Homo sapiens: one gene and its partners. The protein of the gene in region 2 interacts with the protein of the main gene of each other region in a biochemical or structural test. Each region holds a gene or a part of one and is shown on either strand. Other genes may lie near its edges.

Evidence for each region. The genes of interacting proteins can lie anywhere in the genome.
Region 1: the proteins of MPP2 (region 2) and MYO18A interact in a test that uses a peptide from one of them, tested with the Homo sapiens proteins (one large-scale study listed by IntAct).
Region 3: the proteins of MPP2 (region 2) and KIF17 interact in a test that uses a peptide from one of them, tested with the Homo sapiens proteins (one large-scale study listed by IntAct).
Region 4: the proteins of MPP2 (region 2) and KCNA6 interact in a test that uses a peptide from one of them, tested with the Homo sapiens proteins (one large-scale study listed by IntAct).

The regions. Positions count from the first base shown.
Region 1 is NC_000017.11:29,173,899-29,177,398, reverse strand, and holds part of MYO18A (unconventional myosin-XVIIIa), read left to right. Parts: intron 1-625; exon of another isoform or gene 626-827; intron 828-3,500.
Region 2 is NC_000017.11:43,901,037-43,904,536, reverse strand, and holds part of MPP2 (MAGUK p55 subfamily member 2), read left to right. Parts: intron 1-43; coding exon of another isoform or gene 44-76; coding exon 77-107; intron 108-2,972; exon of another isoform or gene 2,973-3,253; intron 3,254-3,500. UniProt on the Homo sapiens protein: Postsynaptic MAGUK scaffold protein that links CADM1 cell adhesion molecules to core components of the postsynaptic density. In CA1 pyramidal neurons, required for synaptic KCNN2-containing channel function and long-term potentiation expression.
Region 3 is NC_000001.11:20,669,508-20,673,007, reverse strand, and holds part of KIF17 (kinesin-like protein KIF17), read left to right. Parts: intron 1-811; coding exon 812-1,070; intron 1,071-2,516; coding exon of another isoform or gene 2,517-2,519; coding exon 2,520-2,587; intron 2,588-3,500. UniProt on the Homo sapiens protein: Dendrite-specific motor protein which, in association with the Apba1-containing complex (LIN-10-LIN-2-LIN-7 complex), transports vesicles containing N-methyl-D-aspartate (NMDA) receptor subunit NR2B along microtubules.
Region 4 is NC_000012.12:4,807,886-4,812,133, forward strand, and holds the start of KCNA6 (potassium voltage-gated channel subfamily A member 6), read left to right. Parts: upstream 1-1,448; 5' UTR 1,449-2,156; coding exon 2,157-3,746; 3' UTR 3,747-4,248. UniProt on the Homo sapiens protein: Voltage-gated potassium channel that mediates transmembrane potassium transport in excitable membranes. Forms tetrameric potassium-selective channels through which potassium ions pass in accordance with their electrochemical gradient.

The DNA.
Region 1 (3,500 bases), about 15 Mb from region 2:
CCTTGACATTTTAAACAGTTTAGAGTCAGGCAGCAGTTTTGGTTGTTAGACTGATGATTTTACAGGACCCAGGGCCCTTTCTGTCTGCCAAGTAGTTTATCATCACTTACAAGAGATTATTGTGATTATTCTCTAATATTCAGAGAGGTTGGATGATGGGCTGAAGGTCACACAGCAAGTCAGAGGCAGAGCGGGATTACAACCTGCAGTGTGTGGTTGAGCAGAATAGCTCTCCAGCAGAGGCTGAGGGCCAAATCTGAGCTGTCAGGCCCTTGAAGATAACTGTAGCTGAAATAGTGGAGGCTTAGAGAGGGGAGGGGACTTGCTCAAGGTCACACGGAAGGGGATGTTAGCGGAACTGAGCGCCAGGCGGTGCACCTGGAAGAGCAGCAGGGAACCTGGCGAGGCCGCAGGAGCTCTCCCGCTCGCGTTCCTCCATGGCCCGCGGGATTGCTGCCTTCCGGGGGAGATGGGATCGCAGCGGGAGGCGCCGCGGGGCTGCGGCTGCGCCGGCCCAGCCGCGGGGAAACGCCAAGGGCCGCCCGGCTCCCCGCGCGGCGGCGTGAGGGCTGGCTAATGTCACGTGAGAAGCGTGCAGTCGGCGTGAGGGAGCACACCTGGAGCCAGATAAGCTCCGTGTGACCTGGCAGGGAGTCACCCGGCGCTGCGGAGCTCAGCACAGCCGGCCGGGAGGAGGCTCCCCCTGGAGCACGGGGCCAGGCCAGGTGCTGGCTACCCCTCCGGCCGCTGCTACAACCCTTGGCGAGGGGCAGAGCGCGGGGAGAGAGCCGGGGTCCCGGGGCTGGAGGAAACGGCCGCTCAGGGAGGTCAGAGGCCAAGGGAGAGAGGCCGGCTCTCTCGGGAAAGTATTTCCTTTGTATTTATTTATGAGTGTGGTCTGGGGGTGGGGGTGGGAGGACTGACCTAAGTATCTATCCACCACAGCCAACTCTGGGCACCCTTGTCTTGGGACTCTAACGTTATAGTTTCCATTTCCTGGGTTTTTTTTTTCTTTTGCCAGCTGCTAGGTGACCCATTTAAATGTGTCCCCACTTACAGCCACAAGACACCAGTGAACTCTATTTTAACCAAGTCCCCCAAGCCACTGAAACTTTTTCAAGACATGAAGGCAATCCTTAAACTGACCATTACCCTGTTTGCAGCTTTACTGCTGGTGGATTGCCTACTAGTTTGTCCATTTTTTTTTAGTCTGGAAAAAAGTTGAATCATTAGGTAGAAAGCTAAAGCGTTACTAAAGTGTTACCCTTCTTCTCCCCTACTCTCCAGAGATGACCACTGATAAATTTTTGGATCGAATTTTTCCAGACTGCTGTTTTTTTTGAGAAGGAGTCTCGCTCTGTCACCCAGGCTGGAGTGCAGTGGCGCAATCTTGGCTCACTGCAACCTCCGCCTCCGGGGTTCAAGCAATTCTCTGCCTCAGCCTCCCGAGCAGCTGGGATTACAGGCGCCCGCCACCACGCCCGGCTACTTTTTTGTATTTTTAGTAGAGACAGGGTTTCACCATCTTGGCCAGGCTGGTCTTGAACTCCTGACCTCGTCATCCACCTGCCTCGGCCTCCCAAAGTGCTGGGATTACAGGTGTGAGCCACTGCGCCTGGCCAGACTGCTTTTTAAAAGCTTGTTATATATATTTTAGGCACTATATATGTTTATAGTTTAATATATGTTTTATAAAATATCATCTTATATAAATATTTAAAAAATTTCTGTAGTAGGCCGGACACAGTGGTTCACACCTGTAATCCCAGGACTTTGGGAGGCTGAGATAGGCAGATTGCTTGAGCCCAGGAATTTGAGACCAGGCTGGGCAACATGGCAAGACCCTGTCTCTACAAAAAATACAGAAGTTAGCTGGGTGTGGTGGCGAGTGCCTGTAGTCCCAGCTACTCAGGAGGCTGCGGTGGGAAGGATCGCTTGAGTCCCAGGAGGTTGAGGCTGCAGTGAGCCGAGATCGCACCACACTCTAGCCTGGAGGACACAGTGGGACCCTGTCTCAAAAAAAAAAAAAAAAAAGATGAAATAAAAGTAGAAGAAAAATGATAGATAATTCCACTCCCTGAAGCTCCTAGGTGTAAGCAAATACACATTTACCAGATGAATGTTCTTATAAAAAATTAAAATATAGCCCGAGTGCGGTGGCCCATGCCTATAATCCAGTACTTTGGAGGCCAAGGTGGGTGGACCACTTGAAGCCAGGAGTTCAAGATCAGCCTGACCAACATGGTGAGACCCCATCTCTGTTATTTAAAAAAAAAGAAAAAAAATTAAAATATGGATGAAACACAAGTCTATTTGACCCTTCTAAAATTCCAGTCTCCTCCCCAGAGCATATATTTTTCCTACACATATGCAAATATTGTACACAACGTACATGTAATATATTCATGCACATATATAGATATAGGTTTTTAAATTTTAGCAAAATTATAAACTATCCTGCAACCTATTTTTTCACTTAACAATATAGTATAGAATCTTTCCAGGTCAGTGTATACAAATCTACTTCATTCTTTTTACTTTTAATTATACAACTGCTCAGTTGTATAATTTAGCTTTTTTTTTTGAGACAGAGTCTCGCCCTTTCGCGCAGGCTGGAGTGCTGCAATGGCGTGATCTCGGCTCACTGCAACCTCCGCTTCCTGGATTCAAGCGATTCTCCTGCCTCAGCCTCCTGAGTAGCTGGGATTACAGGTGCGCCACTACGCCGGCAAAGTTTTGTATTTTTAGTGGAGATGGGGTTTCACCATGTTGGCCAGGCTAGTCTCGAACTTCTGACCTCAAGTGATCTGCCTGCCTCAGCCTCCCAAAATGTTGGGATTACAGTTGTGAGCCACCATGCCCAGCATTTTATTTTTTTTTATTTTTTTTATTTTTTGAGACATAATCTCCCTCCACCCAGGCTGGAGCACAGTAGCACGAATCTTGGCTCATGCAGCCTTGACTTCTAGGCTCAAGTGATCCTCCCACCTCAGCCTCCCAAGTAGCTGGTATCACAGGTGTGCACCACTGCCTAGCTACTTTTAAAAAATTTTTTTGTAGAGTCAGAGTCTCACTGTGTTGTCTAGGCTGGTCTCAAACTCCTGGACTCAAGCAGTCCTCCCGCCTTGGCCTCCCAAAGTGCTGGAATTAGAGGCCTGAGCCGCTGCACCTGGCCAGTTTTACTATTCTCTAGTAAGGACTTTTATATTTATAGACTTGCTATTATAAACAATGCTGCAAGGATTAGCCATGTATATTATGTGAATGTACCTATAGATGTCTTATAATGGAATTGCCCAAAGAATATGTACATAAATATTTTCATATGCCAGGTGCAGTGGTGGTGCCTGTAATCCTAGCTACTCAGGAGGCTGAGGCAGGAGGATTGCTTGGGGCCAGGAGTTTGAGACCAGCCTGGACAGAATAGCAAGAACCTGTCTCTAAAACAATTTTTAAAAAGTTAGCCAGTAATGGTGGCGCACACCTGTAGTCACAGCTAC
Region 2 (3,500 bases):
CTTTGCCCTTGTATCTGCTCATCCTCCTCTCTCCCCTCTCCAGGAGAGACGTTTCAGAGCCCTTGCCTCCTTCACCATGCCGGTTGCCGCCACCAACTCTGAAACTGGTAAGAAGGGGGTGAGGATGTTAGCTTATTTCAGTGGTTCAGAGGGTGCCAGGCGAGGACTTAGGGGTGGGCACTTGCACAGCTCCAGATAAGAACCAACTGGCTCCACTGCTGTCCACCCTACCACTCAGCCATTCCTTCTGGCAGCTGCTGTGGCCATCTCCTCTGTGTGGGTTCCTGTGCTGGAACGGAGAAGAGAAAGAATAAGACCCATACCTGCTCCAGTGTAGGGCTGGAGCACAACTCACCTCCGTGGAGGGCAGGGGATGCATGCTCCAGAGGTGACCCGTACTATTGCTGGAGGGCAGTGGCATAGGACCAGGCCTTCAGGAGGTGGCCCCGGAGCTGGGCCTTGGAGAATGGCTTGGGGGTGGAGGGATTACAGCAGCACAGCCTGGGGCTGAGAAGTCCATAATCGCTGCCCACTAGGCCAGCATGTGCCAGAGGTGGACAGGGGGTACTGGGGACCAGGAAGCTGTGAGTGAAGGAACAAGAATACCAGGTTAGGATACCTGGACGTGGCTCTGTAGGAGGCATTAGGACAAGGGAGTGGGCCACTCAGACAAACTAGCAAAGCCTCAGTGGCAAACTGCTTAACCTCTTGGAGCTCGCATTTCTTCTTCTGTAAAGAGGCTGCTGTGAGACGCAAAGGCTGTAATGGGAGAGCACATTACTTTTAGGAATAGTCATAATTATTATGCTGCTGTTGCTGCCGCTGCCACCAAGTTGTTGTTGTTGTTTTTGAGACAAGTTCTGGCTCTTTAGCCTAGGCTGGAGTGCAGTGGCGCAAGCTTGGCTCACTGCAACCTCTGCCTACCAGCCTCAAGTCATTCTCCCACCTCAGCCTCCCAAGTAGCTGGGACTACAGGTGTGCACCACCATGCCCAGCTAATTTTTGTATTTTTCGTAAAGACAAAAATGTTGCCCATGCTGGTCTCAAACTCCTGAGCTCAAGTACTCCACCCGCCTCGACCTCCCAAACTACTGGGATTACAGGTGTGAACCACTGTGCCTGGCCTGAGTTGTTATTTTGGCATTAACCCTGTGTCCTTGAAACAGTCACCTCCTTTTGAAGACCTGAGATTTCCCTAAGATGAGATGATGGGACAAGATCAGTGTTCTTAACTTTTTTCTTTTTCTTTTTTTTTTTTTTTGAGATGGAGTCTCCCTCTGTTGCCCAGGCTGGAGGGCAGTGGTGGGATCTCGGCTCACTGCAACCTTCACCTCCCAGGTTCAAGTGATTCTCCTGCCTCAGCCTCCCAAGTAGCTGGGATTACAGGCACCTGCTATCATGCCCAGCTAATTTTTGTATTTTTGTAGAGACTGGGTTTCACCATGTTGGCCAGGCTGTCCTGACCTCAGGTGATCCACCTGCCTTGGCCTCCCAAAGTGCTGGGATTACAGGCATGAGCCACCACACCTGGCCTGTTCTTAATTTTATTGGTCCTGAGTCACTTAGAATCTGGTGACAGCAGTGAGCCCTCATCGTAGACATATACATCCATGCACAAAAGGTATATTCTACTCTAGGGGATCATGGATTCCCGTAGTGCACGCAGGACCCCAGAAGGTTAAGTTCCCTGTGCTAGAGGCCCTCTGAGGCCCGGGCAGCTGGGAACTGCTATGGTTCTGCTCTGAGTTGTCTGAACTTCCCCCTGCCTGGATGCCTCCCTCCCATGCAGCTCCTTCCCTTGCTCTAGGCCCCACTACTGCCTCTGCCAGAGGTTCCAGGGCTGCCACTTTGGGTAGAATGATTCCTCTGTGCCTCCTCTCCGAGAAAGTGAAGGGAGTGAGCCAGGGCCTAAACTGTGGTACACTTGTCCAGGAAAGGCCTCTTCTCCTTGCAGTGGAGGGATGGCACCAATGTCCCCAGCTTCTGCAGCATCAGAGGGCTCAGTCCCCCATCTCCTGTCCAGCCTGCTGGGCTCCCTGGGGTCTCCCTGCCTCTTTCAGCCTGCCTAGGCCCCACTGTAAGCTGCTTAGGCATTAATTAAACCCACCCCTGAGCCTGTGCTTAATGGCCTCTCCAGCCGGGACTGCCCAGTAAACCCACCAATAGTGCCTGACTGGGGCGTAGGAGGAGGAGCAAGCCCAGCAATTTGGCTTCGTTGTTGCAGACCACTTGATGGGGGCGTGGTGGGGGAGGATGGGGGACAGGGAGTGGAGCCTTGGGGTGTGGCGGTGGGTTCTGCTTCCTCAAAGGACTCCTGGGGCTCCTGCTCCCCTTCATGTTGTTCGAGGGGCTGCTCCTGGCTTCTCATATTCAAAGGAAGAAGTACAAAGTGTTTTTCTTCCTTCAGGCAGCCTCTGTCCTATCCTGAGCTACATTAGCTCCCAGCTTCAAAAATCTAATGGTGGATTCTGCCCCTTATTATCTGGTGGTCATTATACTTCCCACAGGATAGAGAGACAGCTGTGTCCCTGCCTCTGAGTTCAGGCTCCCCTTCCCTCCTCCTCCCCTGGGAGATCCCTGCCTTGGACTCTGCAAAGGGCAAAGCTAATAAGATCCTTTTTCCGCCCTTCCCCATGGGTCAGTATGGTTGAAGGGAGGGAAAGGGTATGGGTGTATTCCTCTTGCAGGGAGACCCCATATCTACTTTGGGTAGAGTCAGGGGCCCTTTTCCTGAGACTTGGGAGATAAATGGACAGTGGCACTGGGCTGAGAACTTAGAGATCCTGAACCTGGCATCTCCTGACCTGCAGCCTTGCTCCCTCTTCCCCTGTCACCAGATTCCCTCCCTTTTTTGGATCAAGGCTGGGATATGTGGCTGCTTTCAGGTGGAGCTGTCCCTTTAAATCTCTCCTCCATCCCTGGGTTACTGTCCTGGTGTGTAATTCTACTGTCATGGCAACCAGGGGTGCAATGCGACCTGGTGCCACTCCTCAGGGAATGTCTGAGTGGAGGCTGCAGTACCCTGATGGTGGCCTCTTGGGCACAAGATCTCAGAGGAATGGGGTCACCGGAGCGGAGCTGAGTCCTTCCCTTCTGCCCACACTTTTCCCTGTGTGCAAATGTGCCCTCATTTTTCCTTTCTGGGGAACTGAGTTCCAAGATGCCTGACTTGCTTCCTGGGCATCATCCCCTTCATTAAGAGGAAGAACTCATGGGAGATGGGGGAGGGGAAGAAGCTGCTGTGAGGCGAGGGGTAAGCAGGGCTGGGGCACCATCCCTACCCACAGCGATGCCACCTCCCCCACGTACCCTGCCTCCCAGTGGCTGACCAAGGGTGGGTAGGGGGAGGCGTCTGAGGCTTGAGGTATTTGCCCCATGCCCAAGTGAGGCTGCCTCCCGGTGGAGGGCTGAGTCGTTCTTGGGGACTTCCTTAGACTGAGGGACTATTGTAAAGGAAACAGGGCCTGGAGAGGGGACTGAGAGCAGAGGTCAGAGGGCAT
Region 3 (3,500 bases), on a different chromosome or scaffold from region 2:
AGTGATCCGCCCGCTTCGGCCTTCCAAAGTGCTGGGATTACAGGTGTGAGCCACCACGCCCTGCCTCAAACATCCTTCTTTACTAATCAGACTGTACCTGCTCTTTGAGGAAACAGACTGTGCACCAGGTAGTCTTGGGGCTCAGGGAGAGGGTGGTTATGGCTGGGGCTGGCAGTCACCTGTGCTCAGGAGGGACCGGGGGACCGGTCTGGCAGACTTGAGCAGGAGACCAAAAGAATCTGGAACCCTTGATCAGATCAAGGTGGGTCTTACTCTTAGGTCCATTGTTTAGGTCCAGTGTTTGTCACACCGTCACACAGGGCTGTGGCAGTGGGAGAGTGAGGATTGTCAAGTCGGAGAGTTTGTGCCTGTTGTCCTCCTTAGAGATGTCACTTGTGCAATTCTCTGATATCCTTTAGAACGGTGGTGTTGGATGTGGGGACTTCTCAAAGGCTCCTGAATAAAATGTACAATGGGAGATAGTGACTGAGGGGCTGGCTGTTGGGATTGCTGATCAACTTTTCCCCTACATTTTGCAGGGCTGGGGGGACACATTAGGTGCTCATTTAAATGCTGGGTGGAGAGACAGCAGGGTGATTGGATAGACGGAAGGATCAGTGGGTGTGAGAGGAGGTGGATGGATGGATGGAGGGAAGGATGGCTGGATGGATGGTGGGGATGAGAATGGATGGCTGATCAGGCCAATGAACAGACGATGCGTGGCTGCTGGCAGGACAGTGAGTGGACAGGGTGGTTAGATGGAAGGGGAGGTATCTTTCCCTGCTCACTGCTTGTCATCCTTTGCTTTCAGCTTCGGGCAGCAGAGGTGGAGATCAAAGATCTGCAGTCCGAGTTTCAGCTGGAGAAGATCGATTACTTGGCCACCATCCGCCGGCAGGAGCGTGACTCCATGCTCTTGCAGCAGCTCCTGGAGCAGGTGCAGCCCCTGATTCGCAGGGACTGTAACTACAGCAACCTGGAGAAGATTCTGCGTGAGTCCTGCTGGGACGAAGATAACGGCTTCTGGAAGATCCCACATCCCGTCATCACAAAAACCAGCCTCCCAGTAGGTCAGGAGCTTGGCTGGCCCTTGCCCTCCCCTCCCTCCTTCACGGCTTACCATCCTGCAGACTGGCAGGGAGTGTGGGCCTCTCCTTGCAGGCTGTGGGTGTAGAAGACACGTGACCCTGGGTACCTGATGCGTCAGGACTCTGAGAAAGTGGTGTGTTCTGGAGGCAGACAGATGTGGGTTGGAATTCTGGCAGCACCGTTCCCTGTGTGCCCTTTTTGGGACTCGGTGTCTTCATCTGTGAAATGGGGATGAATAACAGCACCTTTCTTAAAGTTGCTGTAAGGTTTGAAATGTGTTAATAGGCCAGGTATGGTGGCTCACGCCTGTAATCCCAGCACTTTGGGAGGCTAAGGCTGGCAGATTGCTTGAGTCCAGGAGTTCGAGACCAGCCTGGCCAACATGGTGAAACCCTGTCTCTAAAAAAAAAAAATAGAAAAATTAGCCAGGCATGGCAGCATGTACCTGTAGTCCCAGCTACTATGGGGGCTGAGGCGAGAGGATCGCTTGAGCCTGGGAAGTCAAGGCTGCAGTGAGCCAAGATCGTGCCACTGCACTCCAGCCTGGGTAACAAAGTGCGACCCTGTCTCAAAACAAACCCCGAAAAAACAAAAACCAGAAATGTGTTAATACACAGAAAACCCTTACAGCAGTGCCTGGCACATAGTGATGCTCGCTGCATGTCATTGTTATCCTAATCAGCATTGTCACTGGTTCATCCTTACGACAGCCCTGAGAAGACAGGTTTTCTACCCATTTCACATAGGAGGACACAATCTCAGAGGGTCCAAAGTCACAGTCACAGCAGTGAGTGGGAGGACCATGGATCAAAACCCACAGTTCAGAGTTTCAGGCCTGGTTCCACTTCCGCTCTTGCTGCTGACCTCCCGTATGGCCTTCCGAAGATCACTGTCCCTCTCTGGGCTTCTTTACAAAGAAGGGGTTGGATCAGATGACCTTGAAAGCCTCCTCACCTCTGATGAGTCTCAGAGTAAAGCCAGACATGCTGTGGCTCTTTCTCCAGCCGTGGACCTGACTCTGCCCATTTGGGGAGCCCGCAGTGCCCCCCAGGAGTCCTCCCTCTTGCTCAGCGTGTTCATCCAGGTCCAACATCTCTGATGTTTATTGACACCATCCCTGCTGAGACCCCAGCCCGCCTCCATTTCCCACATGCTCTGGGATGCAGCAGCCTTCCTGTCTGTCCCCACCCTCGCCTGCTGTCTTGCCTGGAAGCCCCTTGGCTGCTGTCTTGCCTGCAAGCAGATGAGGGTCTTCTCTGGTGCCTGAGCCCCTCCTGCTGTCTGTTTCTTAAAATTATCCCTTGGCTTGGGCTGGGAAGTGTCCTCCCCTGTTTAAGCCTGAGCCAGGCCTGACCCCCACCTCCACCTGTGCCCTCCTCTAGGCCTTGCACCAGGCAGCAGTGACTTCAGCTTTTGTTTTCTCATAGCAGTTTCAACTGGGCCACAGAACAAACCAGCCCGCAAAACCTCTGCAGCAGACAATGGCGAGCCGAACATGGTGAGGACCGCGGGAGAGGGAGTGGGGTGTCGGGGGCTGGGAGGGCTTTGCCCCCAGTGCTGTGGGTCAGTGTTACTGTGGAGAGCTGGTTTTCCACTTTCCTCCCGCCTAAGGATTAAAGAAGGGGCCAAGGCTGGATCCTTTTCATGCCCCTCCATTGGCACCTAGACCCTCAACCCCCTCTGGCCCTCATTCAAAGGTACTCACAGTCATAAATACCAAGGGAAAGTAGATGGTTCGGTGGCCCATCTTGCCGGTGAAGGACAGAGACTTCAGCCTCAAACTCAGAGGACAAGCAGCACATTCTGGTTTCCTGCTGGTAATCCTCAGACCAAGAGGGTCCTCACAGGGTTCATGAAGCAGTAATTGGGATTCCTAAGTCACTTTATTTTCCCGTCTCTCATATTCTGTCTTTTTTTTTTTTTTTCTTTTTCTAAGCTCAGTGGCAAGACCTATCTCCTATATTTTATAGTGCAACAGAAATGCATGTTCTTAAAGCATGGGTGGTGGTGGTTGTTTTTTTTTTTTTTTTTTTTTTTTTTTTTTTTTTTTTTTTGAGATGGAGTCTCGCTCTGTCACCAGGCCGGAGTGCAGTGGTGCGATCTTGGCTCACTGCAACCTCTGCCTCCCAGGTTCAAGCAATTCTCCTGCCTTGGCCTCAGCTGGGACTACAGGCGCGCACCACCATGCCCAGCTAATTTTTGTATTTTTAGTAGAGACAGAGTTTCACCGGGTTGGCCAGGATGGTCTCGATCTCTTGACCTTGTGATCCTCCTGCCTCAGCCTCCCAGAGTGCTGGGATTTCAGGCATGAGCCACCACGCCCGGCCTCTATTTTATTTTATTTTATTTTATTTATTATTATTATTATTATTATTATTATTTCGAGACAGAGTCTCGCTCTGTCGCCCATG
Region 4 (4,248 bases), on a different chromosome or scaffold from region 2:
GATCCCTTCCCGACACATCCAGGAGCCTTGGTTCTCTCCTTCCTCCAACTCTCTGAGAGTGAATGCTGCTGAGAACCACTGTGGTTTTAAAATACTCCGTGCAATACAAAGAACTCTCAGATGCATCCTGTGGTTTGAGAGCACCTTTATGTGTCATTCTCATCATTAACCTCAATGAATGCATACTAATGATCTAATATGCACCAGAAGCTACACAAAAACACTTTGTAGTTGTTAGCCAATTCATTTTGGCTACAGCCAGCCAGAAAAGAGGAAACTGAGGCACAGAGAAGCAAATGTCAACCCTACCTGGAAGTGTCAGTCTGAAAAGATCAGTTGAGTCTTCCTCTACCAGACCCCAACTTGTCTGGTCTCGTGAAGAAAGACAGAAATGGATGGAAAACCATTCTTATCACCTTCTTGCTGGAGAGTTAGGGAAGAGTCAGCTGGTCCCTAACAACAAACTTTGCCCTACTCCAGTACTGCCAAAGGGGTCTTTGTTGTAACATGGCCTACAAGGAGAGGACATCTTTCTGGGAAAGCACCTAGAATGTGGCTGGCACATATTCAATGCCCAGTAAATGTAGCTATTATTTTTTCAATCAACACTCTTACATACCCCTTTTCCACTCACCCTCTTCTCCCTTTTTTTGGTCACCCAATAAGCAGAAATTCCAGATGCATCCTTCGGGGTGGTTGGGAGCAAAGGATCCCCAGGGTGCACTGTGCCCTGGGCTGAGGTATCTCTGAGGTGCTTCCATCTTCTGGGTCCTTCCTCACTGGGGTTGTTGCCTCAGGCTCTCAGGACTCCCCTGGAAATCTTCTGATGGGAAAGGCATTGATTGACTTGCCACCCTTTCTCTACCATCCCTTTGCAATTCTGGGAGAGTTGCAGCCCCGCCCTCCCAGGCTTGCAAAGGTAGACGGAGAATTATATTGGAATTTAAATCGGAAGCTCTCAAGGCATCTCAAAAATACTTTCTCTATTTTTTTTTTCCTGTAGATATTGGAGAGGTTGGCAAACGGGTCTTCCTGAAGACAGAAGAATGTATGATTTAATGTTTTCTTTAGATTTCTGTATGAGTGGATGCACAGTGCTCCGTATTGTGTGGTGGGGCGGGGTGTGTCTTCTTATTGATGAAATACACTGCGCAGGTCAACTCGGTAAATTGAAATGAGAAGAGCCGACTGCGGGGGTGGAGGGGGTGTGGTATTAGGGTGCCGGCGCTTGTGGAGGGGGGCGCGAATGTGAACGTGTGAAAGCGAGAGGCGTGCCAGGAGAGCGCGGGAAAGCTTACTGGTGAGGCAAGTGTGCGTCTATTTCCATGGCGCCCTGGCTCGCGGCAGCCCCTGGCTGGGCGAGGGGTGTGATGTGGGAGTGGGGTGGGAGGGGGCAGCAGGCGGGGCCTGCCACGTCACTTGGAGAGTGTGTGTTGGGAAGGAAGGGCAGAGCGGAGAGCCGAGCCGCTGCAGCTGCGGCGGCGGCAGCGAAGCCTTGAGCCGTGGGGAGGTGGGTCCCCGCGCTCGGGCGCCGGGGCAGCCCCGGGCCCTCTGCGAGGCCTGCGGCGCGGCTCCTAGGGAGGAGGTGGCGGCTGTGGCGGCCGGAACCGCGACCTTGGCCGGACCCAGCCCCGCGGTGGACGCAGGGCGGAGGCCGAGCCCCGCCAGGAGTCTTTGCCGAGCCGGAGGGAGGCGCATCTGGCGCTTCGGTACCAGCGGCAGCCGGGGGTCCGGAGCGGCTGGAGGAGCGCAGTGGGAACTGGGAAGAGCTAGCCCGGCTGGAGGGCGGACCTCTGCGTCCGGGAGCCGGGTCTCAGGCACCGCTGGGGGCGAAGCCACGCGTCTTTTCGGGCAGCCAATTTCACACGCGCCTGTGTGCGGTTCCGGGCATCCCAGTAAGCTCTAGCACCCGGGCGCGGGTAACGGGAAGCGCAGAACCAAATCCCCAGCGCCCAGGTCACCTCCCCAGACCCAGCCTTGCAGGGACCAGGGCTTTAGGGCTCACGGACCCAACGGCCAGGTCAGACCGCGAACCGGGAGGAGCGCGGGCCCCACCCTAAAGAGGGCGCAGCCGGGAGCTGGGGAGCGGGTGCCGCGCTCCAGAGATTGTGTCGTGGGCGCCGTCCTAGTGGCGGGGAGCGCACCTCCGAGGGGGCATGAGATCGGAGAAATCCCTTACGCTGGCGGCGCCGGGGGAGGTCCGTGGGCCGGAGGGAGAGCAACAGGATGCGGGAGACTTCCCGGAGGCCGGCGGGGGCGGGGGCTGCTGTAGTAGCGAGCGGCTGGTGATCAATATCTCCGGGCTGCGCTTTGAGACACAATTGCGCACCCTGTCGCTGTTTCCGGACACGCTGCTCGGAGACCCTGGCCGGCGAGTCCGCTTCTTCGACCCCCTGAGGAACGAGTACTTCTTCGACCGCAACCGGCCCAGCTTCGACGCCATCCTCTACTACTACCAGTCTGGGGGCCGCCTGCGGAGGCCGGTCAACGTGCCCCTGGACATTTTCCTGGAGGAGATCCGCTTCTACCAGCTGGGGGACGAGGCCCTGGCGGCCTTCCGGGAGGACGAGGGCTGCCTGCCCGAAGGTGGCGAGGACGAGAAGCCGCTGCCCTCCCAGCCCTTCCAGCGCCAGGTGTGGCTGCTCTTTGAGTACCCAGAGAGCTCTGGGCCGGCCAGGGGCATCGCCATCGTCTCCGTGTTGGTCATTCTCATCTCCATAGTCATCTTTTGCCTGGAGACCTTACCCCAGTTCCGTGTAGATGGTCGAGGTGGAAACAATGGTGGTGTGAGTCGAGTCTCCCCAGTTTCCAGGGGGAGTCAGGAGGAAGAGGAGGATGAAGACGATTCCTACACATTTCATCATGGCATCACCCCTGGGGAAATGGGGACCGGGGGCTCCTCCTCACTCAGTACTCTTGGGGGCTCCTTCTTTACAGACCCCTTCTTTCTGGTGGAGACGCTGTGCATTGTCTGGTTCACTTTTGAGCTCCTGGTGCGCTTCTCCGCCTGCCCTAGCAAGCCGGCCTTCTTCCGGAACATCATGAACATCATTGACTTGGTGGCTATCTTCCCCTACTTCATCACCCTGGGCACTGAGCTGGTGCAGCAGCAGGAGCAGCAACCAGCCAGTGGAGGAGGCGGCCAGAATGGGCAGCAGGCCATGTCCCTGGCCATCCTCCGAGTCATCCGCCTGGTCCGGGTGTTCCGCATCTTCAAGCTCTCCCGCCACTCCAAGGGGCTGCAGATCCTGGGCAAGACCTTGCAGGCCTCCATGAGGGAGCTGGGGCTGCTCATCTTCTTCCTCTTCATCGGGGTCATCCTCTTCTCCAGTGCCGTCTACTTCGCAGAGGCTGACGATGACGATTCGCTTTTTCCCAGCATCCCGGATGCCTTCTGGTGGGCAGTGGTTACAATGACCACGGTAGGTTACGGGGACATGTACCCCATGACTGTGGGGGGAAAGATCGTGGGCTCGCTGTGTGCCATCGCTGGGGTCCTCACCATTGCCCTGCCTGTGCCCGTCATCGTCTCCAACTTCAACTACTTCTACCACCGGGAGACGGAGCAGGAGGAGCAAGGCCAGTATACCCACGTCACTTGTGGGCAGCCTGCGCCGGACCTGAGGGCAACTGACAACGGACTTGGCAAGCCTGACTTCCCCGAGGCTAACCGGGAACGGAGACCCAGCTACCTTCCTACACCACATCGGGCCTATGCAGAGAAAAGAATGCTCACGGAGGTCTGACCCATGCAGGCAGGGCCTGCAGGAGGGGAGCACTGAGCTAACAGTCTCTTAGGCTTCCTTCTCATTTCCACTACTCACTCTAGCTTCAGTTGACTTCTTGACTCTCTCCCCTACACCCACTACCTGGCATCCAGGACCAAATACCTGGACTATCAACCTTGTTGCTTAATCCCTGCAGCATTCAAGGTTAATCCATCTAAGTGACATTTTTGAAATTCCAGCGGTGCCACCCAATCATGCCCAGCTTCTGTCATATGAATGAGATATACATTTATGTCTGACCTTCCCTCAAGACTGATTTTTCATGTCTGGGACTTACAATATCTCAAGGAACAGCAATGTCAACAGGATGGAAACCAGCCCTATCTGAGTCTTCGCTCCCTCCTTAGTGTTCTTTGCTTTGGGTCATGTGCGTTTCCTAGCTTCAGGCTACTTGGTAACTGGAAGAAGCTGGAGGACAGAAGCAGTACTCAACTTGCTGTTATTCCAGTGCCCTGTAACA